2 linked regions of the Homo sapiens genome follow. The protein of the gene in region 1 purifies or fractionates together with the protein of each later gene. This does not show direct contact. Each region holds a gene or a part of one and is shown in the gene's direction. Other genes may lie near its edges.

What was found.
Region 2: the proteins of MED13L (region 1) and CDK8 purify together in Homo sapiens (affinity purification with mass spectrometry; 8 studies listed by BioGRID and IntAct, with this or other methods). This does not show direct contact.

Annotation. Positions count from the first base shown.
Region 1 is NC_000012.12:116,275,996-116,279,744, reverse strand, and holds the start of MED13L (mediator of RNA polymerase II transcription subunit 13-like), read left to right. Parts: upstream 1-2,051; 5' UTR 2,052-2,613; coding exon 2,614-2,685; intron 2,686-3,052; exon of another isoform or gene 3,053-3,273; coding exon of another isoform or gene 3,274-3,315; intron 3,316-3,749. UniProt on the Homo sapiens protein: Component of the Mediator complex, a coactivator involved in the regulated transcription of nearly all RNA polymerase II-dependent genes.
Region 2 is NC_000013.11:26,256,980-26,260,728, forward strand, and holds part of CDK8 (cyclin-dependent kinase 8), read left to right. Parts: intron 1-3,749.

The DNA of each region.
Region 1 (3,749 bases):
GCAGCTGGGACTACGGGCACACGCCACCACACCCGGCTAATTTTTGTATTTTTAGTATTTTTAGTAGAGACAGGGTTTCATCATGTTGGCCAGGCTGGTCTCGAGCTCCTCACCTCAGTTGGTCTGCCCGCCTTGGCCTTCCAAAGTGCACGGATTACAAGCGTGAGCGACTGCATCCGCTCATCAACAGTATCTTAATAGAAATTCTCAATATTGGCCTGAGGTCATTGGGTCAGCAATCAGGATCAATTTTTGAGATTAGGAAATGAGGCTCAAAGAGTTAAACTATGTTGGTCAAAATAATGCAATTAGAGGGATGGCAAAGCCAGCCAGAGGCATCTTTCTAAGGAGCCTCCTGAATTCATGCTCGGGCTCTGGAGTCAGAAGGACCTGAGTTTGAGCCATGTACTAACTGAGAGATTGGAGATGTCACTGCACACCTCTGAGTTTTACCTAATTACAGCCTAAGAATAATAACAGTATCTACTTTAGGTGGTTGTTCTGCGGATTATGTGAAATAATGTAGGTAACGACATTCATTGTAACAATATGTTGCATGATAATACACATTATAACATGTTGCTCATGAGTTTTGCTTTAGCAGTATTTGTGGTAGTTCCAAAACTCAGTTCACGTGTCTTAAGACTTCTCTTATTATACACTCTCATCTCTTCCCTGCTTTCTACTCTTCCTTTTTTTTTTTTTTTTTTTTTTTGAGACAGGGCCTCTCTCTGTCACTCAGGCTGGAGTACGGTGATGCGACCTCGGCTCACTGGGCTCACTGCAGCCTCTGCCTCCAGGGCTCAAGTTATCCTCCCACCTCAGCCTTTCGAGTAGCTAGGGCTACAGGCACATGCCACACTACGCCTGGCTAATTTTTGTATTTTTGTATTTTATTTTTTTTGTCATGACGGGGGTTCTTGCTACATTGCTCAGGCTGGTCTTAAACCTCGGCTAGGATTACCGGCGTGAGCCACTGTGCCAGCCATCCACTCTTCCTCTTTTAGCTTAATCTACCTGAAACAGCTGATTGTTCCATGTTTGGAGGCGTATTAGTGAAGACATTGTTTTCTCCTCCCCCTTTTCGGGGATCCATTTCTTGAGGACTGGGAGAGCTTCTCTTCATAGCAGCACTCCTCCGGACTCCCAGGCCATATACACTCAGGAAATGTTGGTTATCCAATGAATGACGCCAGGAAGAAGGGTCTGCTCCCAACACGGCCTTAGCACAGTGCCTGGAAGTTATAACAGATTCTGGCACACAGCAGGAGCTCAGGAAACATTTATGTAATGAATGAATGAATGAATGAATGAGTGCACACAGTAACTAGGAGTAAGGGCTCAATAAACATTTCTGTATTAAACGCACAGTGTCTGGAACACAGTAAGCGCTCCGTCTATGGCAGCCGTGAATATCCCTGGGCGAAGCCTGTGAAACCTTGTCCAAGAGCTTGGCTTCACTGTGCGCGGGTTCGAATCTGGACTCCTCTTCCCAAGTGTGCGACCTCGGGCAAGTGATTTAATCCCTTTGTGCTTTAGTTTTCTCCTCTGCAAAAGGCGGACGGCGGCGCGAGCCTCTGAGGACACATTCCCCAGGGCACTCGGACCCGCTGCCTGGCCCACATCGCGGCCGCCGCGCCACGCCAGCCGGCCTGGGCTGCGAGGGCACAGGCCGGGGGTCCCGCGCCCTCCTCCGCGGCCACCACGGGCGCGCCCGGGACCCACGGTCCCGCCCCGCCACGATCAGTGCACCGCGAGGGGGCGGGGCGGCCACGAGGGGCAGCCCACGGCAGCCACGGGCCGGCAGTCCGCCGCCCGCCGGGGAGCCCGGCCGCCCGCACTTCTTTCTCTCCCTCTCTGCCTCCCTCCCTCCCTCTTCCCGGCCGGAGGACCCGGCCGCGCTCAGCTCAGCAGCGCCTCCCGCGAGCCGCCGCCGCCGCCGCCACTCCGGACCCCTCCCCCGCCCGCCCCTCGCTCCCCCCGCGCGGCCGGCGCCCGTCACGTGACCAAGCGCCAGCCAATGGCGGGCCGAGCCGCGGTCGGCGGCCGCCATTGCTGTCAGAGCAAGCGAGCCCGGGGAGGGAGGAGAAGCGAGGCTGACTGGGGAGGAGGGGGGGGTGGGGGAGGAAGAGGAAGGAGGGGACGTCGCTCGGCTGCCGGGGTCGCCCGCTGGCTTCGTCCGCACCCCCCCCTTCGCGAGTTCGCGCTCCGCGGCGGCGGCGGCTCCGAGGCGGCGGCGGCGGCTCCGGGGCTCGCCTCCCCTCGCGCGCCGGCGGGGGCCGAGGGGGAGTCGGTGGCTGGAGATAAACAAGGCGGCGGCAGCGGCAGCAGCGGCGGCGGCGGCGGCTGAGGAGCAGGGAAGGCGGAGGCGGTGGCCGGCCCGCAGCGCCGGCCCGGGGCGCGCGCCCCCCCCGCCAGCCCGGGCCCGCTGCCCCCGGCGCGGCGTCGCCGCGGCGCCTCCCGCCTGCCCGCCGGCCCTCGCGCCCTCCCCCGGCGGCGGCGGCGGCCCGGCCGCCCCGCGCTCCCCGGCGAGGCGCCGCCGCCCGGCCCGGCCTCGCCTCGGACGCCTCGCTCCGACATGCCCCGCTCTGGCGGCCGGGCTCGCGGAGGATCATGACTGCGGCAGCGAACTGGGTGGCGAACGGGGCGAGCCTGGAGGATTGTCACTCCAACCTCTTTTCGCTGGTGAGTAGCCGGGCTGCGGGGAGGGGGCTGTGCCGGGGAAGGGGGGGGGTCCCCGACCTCCGCCGCCGACCAACTTTCTCCTCCCGCCGCCGGGACTTCGCCCCTCCCTCGCGTCTCCCCGCCGTTCGCCTCTCGCCGATTCTCCCCCTTTTGGATCGTCTCTCTCTCGCCTTGGATCCCATCCAGTGTTTATTTGGCTCTTTAAAAATCATTTGTGAGCGCGGCGCTCGGCGTGGAATTTGCATGTGGAAGTCTCGGAGCTGCGGATTCTGGGTCGCACTTCGAACGCCCACCCTCTGTTGCAATCGCACTCCCCTTCTCCTCCCCTTTCCCCCCTTTTTTTCCCCCCGTAAATGTGGAAGGCTTTGCCTTGTGCTGCCGCGCCTCCGATCGGCAACCTCTTCCCCCGTTGTTGGATCAGCTGCCTGCCCGCCCGCCTGCCTTTTGAATTTTTTTAAATTCCATAATGACACCTGCAATTTCGCCCTAAAATAGTTGATTGAATGCGATTGTGTCAGGAAAGGACTCTTGCACCCGAAGCTCCCGCGATTGTAAACATCGACAGCCGCCTGCCTCTCGGGGCTTACTATGCTGGAGAGCCGTAAAGCCATTGCACCGAGCCGACGGAAGGTGGAGAAAGCTTTTTCTTCTTTCTCTCCTCCTGTGTCTTTTAAAAACTGTTTTTCTCTATCCTAACAACGAATCCGCACACACACACACACACACACACACACACACACACACACACACAAAAGCAACAAGCTGGTCGGTTTGATAACATCGCTTTTATCTGCCTTCGCCTCTCTCGCGCTCTCTCTTTCTGATAATTGACAACTTTTCCTTCGGATTTGAATCGCCTGCCTTAATCTTGAAGCAGTTAGGGTGTCAATTGTTCTCGTGGAAGCCTGGCACCCGCCGACGGTGTCTAGATTCATCGAAATTAAAAATGTATAGGGCTCCAGCAACTCTTTTCCTGGCGGTGTCAGTGACATTTGGTGGTAAATGCCATCTTTGCTTTTTATTGGGTCGTATTACCTACCTCTGAAAACATTCACGTTGTTAAA
Region 2 (3,749 bases), on another chromosome or scaffold:
TCGCATAGTATTTATGAGGTTCTTTTGATCTTATGTCAGTGAAATGTAATTTAATGCATTTTAGTCCTGGTAAAATAAAATTTGTGGCTGTTTAATCTTTCATAATAAGATGATGATCAAATAATTTGTTTCTAGTATTGATTTACTTTCAAATTACATTATATATTCTGCAGCTGAGATTTGTTCTCTAGGAACTCAGACAGTAACACCTTTAAGGAGAACCTGAGATTTTCTATAAAAGGAAGTAACGCAAATAAGCTTGGTTTAGACATATTTGACTATTGAAATGAATGTATGTAAACGTTGTATCCTTTCAGTTGCCCAGTGAGCATAGAACATGAATAATTGGTAAAATAATTTAGACCAGAGAAGTTAGCTGCTTAAATTATTAAGTTTTAGGAAATAAAATAGCTTCAAAGATTCATTTCTTTGACTTACTTGAGGCATGATTGCATAGTAGGGAAAAGGGACCTTTTATAACTTTGTTAATTTCACATTATAATAGAGTTTAAAGAAATGCACAATAAATCTTGGGATTAATTTGTTCTCACTCGTGTCGCCGTAAATGAGATAGTGTCCTTTGTGTCTGAACACTTAAAGAGTACTCAGTGGGAAGCAGGGGGGTTCATTTTCTTTCTGAGTTGATTGTATCTCCTCTTTGCAGAGTTTAGGCAACCAAACTAATTTTGTTTTAAAGAGTAAGAGAGCGTTAGAAGACAGAAAACAATTTGTGTTTTTAAATTCTAGACTTCAATATTTGCACTGAATGTTTGGATAATTTAAAATATCAATTTGGGATAAGAGGTTTTTCTTCAAAAAAGAAAAACAAAAGGCATTTTCTTAGCAGGGTTTTTAATCTGTTATAATCTATGTTCCAAAGAATAGATAATTATGAGTGAGGAATGAGTGTGTGTTTGTGTGTGTGTGTGTGTGTGTGTGTGTGAGAGAGAGAGAGATACTGCCAACTTTCTTTGGGGCACATTTGTTGAGAGCCCAGAGATTAGTAAGTAGGCAGTGATAATGGCAATAATAGCTAAATTACTGAGTAATTAAGTTTCAGGTCCTGGGCAAAGCACTTTACATTCATCATCTAGTTAGTCCTCACAAGAAGTATATCAAGTCAATTCTGTTATTTTTCAGTTTTCCAGTTGAGGAAACTGAGGCTTAGAAAGGTTAAGCAAATTTACCCATGAGTACACAGCTAATTAAATGTCAGCTAAGATTAGAGGATTAGGCGCAGGTTTTTCACTCCAGAGCCCATGCTCTTAACCATTATGCTTCCTATAATTAATATATTGAATAAGTAAAAAAATAGTTATGGAGTTTGATTTCTAGTGGGTTATTCAAAAACATAAATACCTTGTAGAACTATTAATATTTGCTTCAATAAACTGGTGTACTTTCTGGGTATATTGCTGAAGCACCCTTTTTTTCAAGTGCTATAAAACTGTTTATGTAGATATATGGGTGTGTCTGTACGTATATACACAAACATACTTGTGTATCTAGAGGGGTGTGTGTGTGTGTGTGTGTGTAGGACTAAACTCTAATGAAAGCCATGTGGAAGCACTTCATCTAGTGGAAAGAACTCTAGATGAGCGATCCTGGAAACCTGAATTTGAATTCAGACTGTGCTTCTGATAGCAGTATGACCTTGGGCAAGTCATTTGCCCTTATAGCTCTTAGTAGGGGGGTTTCAGCATATAATTTTTAGGGTCTTTTCTAGTATTATGATTTGAGGAAGTAAAAATTATGAACATAAAATGTAATATTTTTTGCAAGATTAGGCAAACAACCACTAAAAAATTTTACTTTAGATGATGGTGCATTTCCATATTTTTTAGTCTCATGCTTTAACGTTGGTTCTCATCAACTGCCAAAAAGCTTGGTAACTCCCAAAGACCTATCAGTTACTTAACCCAACATGTCTTACGCTACCTTGCCATTCCTCTGTATTTATCTCTTAAGATATTGAGGATTTATGGACTAGTGCCTGTTCCCACTCCCTTGAACCATTCAGTTGGTGGGCAGCACAAAGGAACTCTTCTGATTCAACCTGCATTGGAGCATCCCATTACCTTTTTCCCCTTCTGAATATGGCTGAATGCTGTATCTAAGTTCATTTTGATTTAAATATTTCTTTAGATGTCAGAAATGCCAAATACAATATGTAATTTCTATCACTGGAATAGTCATGTATACAATAAAGAGTATTCCTTATAACCTTCTAAAAATGTGACAGAAGAGGACAGTTAGTCCCCTGTGTCTGCAGGTCCTGCATCTGTAGATTCAAGCAACTGTGGTTCAAAAATTTTCGAGGGGGTAGGGGGAAGGATAGTTGCATCTCTACTGAGCATGTACAGATTTTTTTTCTTGTCATTATTTCCTTAAAAAATAGAGTATAACAACTGTTTACATAGCATTTACATTTTATTAGGTATTATAAGTAATCTAGAGATGATTTAAAGTGTGTGGGAGGATATGCGTAGGTTATATGCAAATAGGACACCATTTTATATTAGAAACTTGAGCATCTGTGGATTTTGGGGGACGGTCCTGGAACGCACCCCTTGTGGATACTGAGGGATGACTGTATTTGCTGTGTACTTCTTATTTCCATGTGGTTGAAGTTACCTACCTTAGATATCAGTGCATTCAGATCCGCTATTTAGGCCACGTTGAGATTTCATGCTTAAATTTCATTTTTTTAGTAGCAATACTGGAAAATCAATTCATTTGGGATTTGTTCATGTGAGTTATTACTTTTACTGTGTCTTTGAACATTTGAAGAAGTCAATTACTCATTCATTCAACAAGTATTTATTGGACCCTTCTATGTGCCAAGCACTGTCCAAGGTATTGGGAATGCAAAGACGAATGAAGTATTCCATTATTTGGGGAGATAACTACTGGGGAAACAAACATGTAAATGTTGCAATTCAATAAGCACTATAATAATTAATGCAAGGTATATGGCAACACAGAGAAGGAAGTCCCCAACTGGTTAAGGTTTTTAGGAAAAGCTTCAAAGTTTACAGTATTTGATTTGGATCATAGAAGACAGGGAAGGTCTCATCAGAAAAGACATTCCAACAGGAATAGGACAAAGGGATTTTTTTTAAAATTGTATTTTCTGCAGACCCCAGCAAATTTTGTGGGTTTTAATTTTTCCTTGCCATGCCTTTCTTTTCCCCTTGTTTTCCCTGGCCAGCATTTTTTGAGTTCTTGCTGTACGTGTAGTAGTATATATATGCACTACAAATGTTCCATTGTACCCGTTGGACATGGTGAGGTACTCATTATTTAACAGTGGAGATAAATTTATCAGCGTTTGCACCGAACACCATAATTGTGTGTGTGTCAGTTTTCAATCATGAGAACATTGGCCATTCAAGAAAAGCAGCCTCTGAAATCCAGGGGTCTGATTTAAGACTCTCTCATGTGTAAAACTGCCATGGCAGAACTCTGTTTTGCCTGGGGCTCTGGTTGGCAAATGATTCTGCTTTGGCCTCACCTCCATGAGGTGTAAGGAGTCAGAATTTCATATGCTGCTGAGGTGATGGATGGTAACAAATTGGAAGGGGAAAGAAGTTCTTTTGCTACTTAGAGTTTAGGAAGTAATGGAATTTCTCTTGTTGGGGCTCTGATGTGTGGAAAGATGAAAGGTAGGGACAGGGCTTCTGGCATGCTGAATTTCAGCTAGGAAAACAGAAATAATGAAAAATTATAATTATTATAGGCCATTTGCA